2 separate regions of the Homo sapiens genome follow, and region 1 is linked to region 2. The links come from fine-mapping of genetic effects on gene expression. A gene starts in region 2. The other region holds a variant in brackets. All regions are shown on one strand. Distances are between the middles of the regions.

What was found. PIP is the estimated chance that this variant, and not a neighbour inherited with it, causes the effect. A credible set is the group of variants that fine-mapping cannot tell apart.
Region 1: its variant is the best candidate, but not a certain one, in a credible set for the expression of ZMYND11 in whole blood (INTERVAL, PIP 0.66).

Annotation. Positions count from the first base shown.
Region 1 is chr10:84,250-87,147 of GRCh38, forward strand. It overlaps the pseudogene IL9RP2. Among named protein-coding and RNA genes, the nearest start is that of TUBB8, 36 kb to the left of the region's middle. The variant G/A (reference allele first, on the strand shown) is at 1,804.
Region 2 is chr10:133,913-136,810 of GRCh38, forward strand. ZMYND11 (zinc finger MYND-type containing 11) reads left to right here and starts at 1,543. Exons shown (of 15, transcript NM_001370100.5): 1 at 1,543-1,647. RefSeq lists silencers at 785-2,344, 792-970.

The sequences.
Region 1 (2,898 bases), 50 kb before region 2:
GGTCAGGCTAGTCAGCAGGAGAAAGACAGACACAGCAACAAAGGTGTTGCCTGGCCGCCCCCAGGGTGGGATCAGAGGGCCTGTGGGCAGGAAGGGCCAAGGGCTGTGAGCAGCCTCAGTGCACACGTGTGTGCACACATACATACATGCACACTCATGTGCACGCACTCACAGAGACACAGGCACACTCACCCTACTCACACACACACACAAAGCACACACAGGTGCATGTCAGCACGTGTGTGTTCACACACACACCTGGCTCCAGTTCCTCCCCTCCTCATCACTCCAAGTTGACATCTCCTTGTTTAGAGTGGGGAGTCTGCCCTGGACTGCTGCTCCCAGGAGAGAGGACCCCAGGGGAAGCCAGTCAAAGTGTTACCTCTCCTGCCTCTTGAAGCCCAGCTCATAGCTGAGAAGTGTGGTCATCAGCTCCAAGGCAGGACTGATGCTCCAGGTCAGGATGCTCTGCAAGTCAGAGAGCGGGTCCAGCTTCACTGGAACAGAGTGAATCTACCTAAGGCTGAAGCCCCATGGGTCTGGGTGTGTCAGTCAACACACCCAAGGGGTGGGGCATGGTCCAGGCCCTCTCAGACCAGGCACCTCACAGGGAGACTGGTCCAGAAAAGCCCCAGGCGGGACAGGACAGCAATGACTTCCTCTGGCCTCTGCAGCTAGACTAGGCGGTTTCTAAATCTTGTGTTCCCTTTCCTTCACAGTCTGCTGCTGGAAGTCCTTCCCAGCATCTTATTGGAGTCCTTCCTGGTATGGCTGAAGTGCATTTCACATAACTCTAGTGCCAGCCCCTGCCCCAAACTAGCAGCCCTGCATCTTTATTTTCTACAAAACCCTGCCCCCGCAGTAACCATGTGTGCCCTCCTCTCCCAGGGGCCAAGCCTGCCCCCAGCCCTGGATCTCACTTGGCAGGGACTGAGAACACTCGCTGGGCCACAGGGGTCACAGGCTGCAGGGCCCTGACCCCAGCCCCCAGGCAGCCAGGATGTTATTGGCGAGGGGCCCTGCCCCAGGTCTATAGCTGATACCGTGTCTCCAGGGCAGGTACTGCAGCTCCACCAGGCTGACCTGCTCCCTCCCAAACGTGCAGTGGTGGAAAGTGATGATGAAATTGTCGGACGGCAGGAGCACCACCTTGGGTGGAAGCACGACAGTGCACTCACTGCCCCACAAGATGCACTTATGTGTGCCACCAGGAGCCTGCTTGCTAGAAAGGGCAAGTGTCAGCACCACGGGGCTGTTACACTGTCGTGGTGTAGCTGCTGCCATCCTGGGGACCTCACCCTCATCCCTGTCCAGGTGGGCATGGCCCTCCACGCTCACCTAATGAAGAGGAGCCCGGGGCTGGAGCCCTGGCCCAGCTCTGGGGCAGACCAGTGGCAATCGATCCTGAGATTGTTGTTGGTGAGGCAGGTGAAGTTTGGCCCTTGGTCCTGGAGACAGTGACAGTTGGGAGCCCACCGTGAGTGCTTCAGGGCAGAGTTGAGTTGGGGGGTTGTGAAGGGATCTGACAGCTGACACCCTAGCAGGGCAGTCACCACTGAATGATCCCAGAATCTGCCCAGGGAAGCACTGGGAGGCCTGGGAAGTGGCGGGCTCTGACCCATGGTACACGGGCAAGTCAGACTTAGAGAGGCGTCAAGAGGGTGAAGGAAGGGAGACTAGGGTTGCTGCGGGGACTGAAGGTAGGAAGGTAAAGGTAGGGAGAATAGAGACTGAGGTCCAGGCTGACCCCTAGAGGACATGCCCCAGCACAGTTTGGGCCAAACCTTTCCCTAGGGTCTCAAC[G/A]TCGGACAAACCAGTCCCCCAAACATGCCCTAGTTCTCCACACACCTCATACAGACACTAGTGCCCAGCCCTCACCTCGTCCATCCCCCAAGACAGAGACTCCCGAGCAGACACAGGTGCAGATGCAGGTGCAGGCCAGGAACCAGGTGCTCATGTCTCGCCTCAGAGCCTCACTCTTCAAGGTCCAGCCTGCAAGGGGCTGGGCTGAGGGCCCTGTGCGAGCCATCCCTCTCTGGAGGGGTGCTCCCCATGAATTTCACCCCAGCAGATTGCTCAGCGGGTCTCCATCTGCACTCACACTGTGTCCTGTGAAAGACGCTGGGCACCACTGCCCAGGCTTTACCGATAAGGAACTGAAGCTTAGAAAGGCCACTCGACCCAGCTGCAGACTCATGGCTGCAGGGTGTAAGATGCACCCTCAAACTTAGATCTTGGACTCTTGCTTAGCTAAGTCTCCACGTCTGCCAAGAAGGTTCCTCTCTAGGACGGGCATCCTCTGCCAGCCCATCCCCTGTCCCTGGGCCCAGGCCTCATCCTGCAGGGGAGTCAGGATTGGGGGAACCACTCACTACCAACAACCACCACAGGTGCATTTTCTACTTTAATTCTCACAACAGCTTTGTAAGGGAGAAGCACTGTCCCCGTTCACAGGCAAGGAGCTGACTCCCAAGGAGGGAAGGAGGGGAAATGACTTGCCCAGGGTCACACAGACAACTTCTATGCATTCTTTTTTTTTTTTTTTTTTTTAGACAGAGTCTCCCTCTGTTGCCCAGGCTGGAGTGCAGTAGTGTGATCTTGGTTAACTGCAACCTCCAACTCCTGGGTTCAAGCGATTCTCCTGCCTCAGCCTCCTGAGTAGTTGGGATTATAGGCTCCTGCTGCCACAGCCAGCTAATTTTTTTGTATTTTTAGTAGAGATAGCATTTCACTATGTTGGCCAGGCTGGTTTCGAACTCCTGACCTCAAGTGATCCACCCCCTCCTTGGCCTCCCAAAGTGCTGGGATTACAGGCATGAGCCACTGCTCCTGGCCTCTATGCATTCTCTCTCCCTTTTGTCTTCTTAAATAAAGACCCATCCCAGGATTTTACCCCAG
Region 2 (2,898 bases):
TGTATATCACAGACCTATTCAAGTACCACCCATTTCTAAATTCTAACAGTCTTAGAAACCAGCTGTAGAAGCAGATTGATATATTTTATCAGAATCCCCAAATTCCTACAACCGTCTCTTCCTAATGACTTTTCAGGTGGGGACACGTGCCAAGACGGCCAATAGATACCTGAAACCCGGGGTAGTGCTGAACCTTACTTACACTACGTTTTCTCCTATACACACCTGCCTATAATAAAGTTTAATTTAGAAGTCAGGCACAATGAGAGATTAACAACACTAATAATAAACCAGAACAATTATAACACTATACTGTAGTAAAAGTTATGAGAATGCGGTCTCCCTGAAAACACCTTGCTGTCCTGTACTCACCGAATTTCAGAGCAGAGGACTCTGACTGACAGGTGTTCCCCGACTCCCAGTGGCGAAAGGTCCTCAGGGAAAACAGGTGAACGCTATCAAAGTATGCTTATCTCCGAACCTTTCTTAAACCAGAGTCTTAAGGGATCGTCTCTGATTAGGTCTAGAATTCCTCTCCATAGAAGATAACCTACTTCTCGCGCAAATCTGCAGTGTTCTTGCAGGGCTGCTGATGGGTGGTCCTGTTCTTTTCGCGGTCCTGTTTGCGCAGAGATGAAACGGGGAACTTAGCGTATCCCTACCGCTCTTTTTGATGACAGGAGTAAAGGGCTGTTCAGACTACCTAAACAATGTTGTTAAGAGAAGCACTCGTACTTCTCAGACTTCGCTGTTCCGGACCCCGCGAGCCAGGGGCAGGCACCGGGTCCACCCGGGGCTGAGCTGCGGCGGCGCCTGACAATGCCCCCTCGCGCCCCGGCCTCGGCGCCCGCTCCCGGCTCCAGCGCGCCTGCACGTACGTAGCCTTCACGTGTGTGTGGATACGGAGTGCATGTGTGGAGACAGAGGAATATGCTCCAACAAATTTCGGATAGAGGCGCCGAAGACAGGACGTGGGGAAGGTAGGAGCCGCGTGCACGGCTCCGGCCCCGGGCGGGAGGCGGCCGCGAGCCGGGCCGGCCGCGCGCAAGTCCGGCGCCAGCCGCTAGAGCCCCCAGTGCGCGGCCCGGCCGCGGGGCGCCTCGACCCGACACAATAAACTCCGAGGGCGGGCGGGCCGAGGGGCCGGTGGGGCCGAGCGGCCGCCCCGCGCGCATCGCCATGTGAGCGGCTGCCGCGGCTTCGCGGGGACCCAACTTTCCCGGGCGGCGGCGCCCAACTTCCCGCCGCCCGCTCCGGCCCCGCAGGCCCGCGGCGCCAGGGGAAGACGCGAGTAAGTGCGGGCGGCGGTGCCCTCCCGGCCCTCACCCCGCACGCGGCGACCCGGCCGCCTAGCCTCCCTCGCTCAGGCGCGACCGCGGCGTTCTCTGAGGTGGAGTATTACAAACATGGCGCCCCTCGAGCCCGGAGCCCTTCGCGCGGAGCCGGCGGCGGGGTCCGGGCGGGGGGGAGCCGGGGAGGAGGGAGGAGGCCGGCAGGGAGGAGGAGGAGGCGGCCTGAGCGTCCCCCCCGCCCCCCGCGCCCGTCGCCGGCTCAGGCCCGAGAGGCGCCGGGCGGCGGGAAGGAGGCGGCACCGGAGGGGAGGGCCGGGCGCGGCGGCGGCGGCGGTGGAGGAGCCGGAGCATAATGGTGGGGAAAGCTCGGCGGCGGGGCGGCGGGGCGGGCGGGGGCGTCCGTGGAGATGGCGCGGCCCGCGCGGTGGAGCCTGCCTGGCCGCGGCCTCTGGGGCGGCGGCGGCACCAGTGGGTGCTGACGGTCGCTCGCCCGCTCGCGAAGAGCTCCGAGCTGCCGGGGAGCTTTGTGGATGGCGGGGCGGGCCGGGCCGGCGGGGCCTGCGAGGGCGGCGGCGGGGCCTGCGGAGGCTGCCGGCCCGCGCCCACTCGCCTTGGGCGGCCGCGGAAGAGGCCCCGGGATGAGGCCCCGGAGGACCGCGCGGGGCCTGCTCGGGCCGGGAAGCCGCGGAGTCGCGTGAGCACCGCCCGCCGGGCCCTGTGCCCCGCTTTCGGTCAGGCCTCCTGGGCCCGTGCGCAGTCCGGGCCGGCGGGGAACGCGGCTCCGGGCGTGTGGCGGGCGGAGAGGAAGCGTTTGTCGGCGCGGCACGTCGTGTGCTAGCCCGGGAGCGGCGGGCAGGGCTGGCCCCGAGGCCCGGGGCGGAGATTCGTCGGTCCCCCGGGGCTGTGAGCGACCCCGGCAGCGAGGCCGCCGCCTCAACAGGTCCTCGCGGACCTCCGGGACAGTCCTGTGGGGTCCGCCGCCCTCCTCCCACCCAGAGCTCCGGGGAGAAGCTGCTGAGGACGCGGCTGGGACGAGGGGGGGCGCCGGGACCCGGACTTTCACTTGCAGTCTCTCCTCGCGCTTTTCTCCCGAGCCGGGAGGAGGAGGAGCTGGCGATGTGTGCGCCGTGCCCGGTGTCTTTTGCAGAGTGACCGCCGTACCTGTTTTATTCGTGTGTACCAGTGCTCGTTGTGCAGTGCGGTGTCCTATGCGGTGGGTACGCAGTACCGGGGATTATATATGGTGTGTACTCTGTGTCATATGCAGTGTGCTCGAAGTACCCGGTGTCGTACCGGCTATCATACACGGTGTGTACATGTATCTTCCTCGCTTAGGCTGTGCACTCAGCCCCCGGTATTGTGTGCAGTAGGTGCCTGGTACCCTGCTGCCATATGAGCTGTGCGTGTGGTACTCCATGTTATATACGAGTGTATGTAGTATCTGGATAGTATTGAATATATTTACCTTACCTGTTGTCACATACAGTGTGTATGTAGTACCTGGTGTCATATATGCGGTGTGTATAGTACCAGGTGTCATATACTGTGTGCACACAGTACTTGGGGTCATATATGGTGTGTACATAGTATCCTTTCACACTGTGTA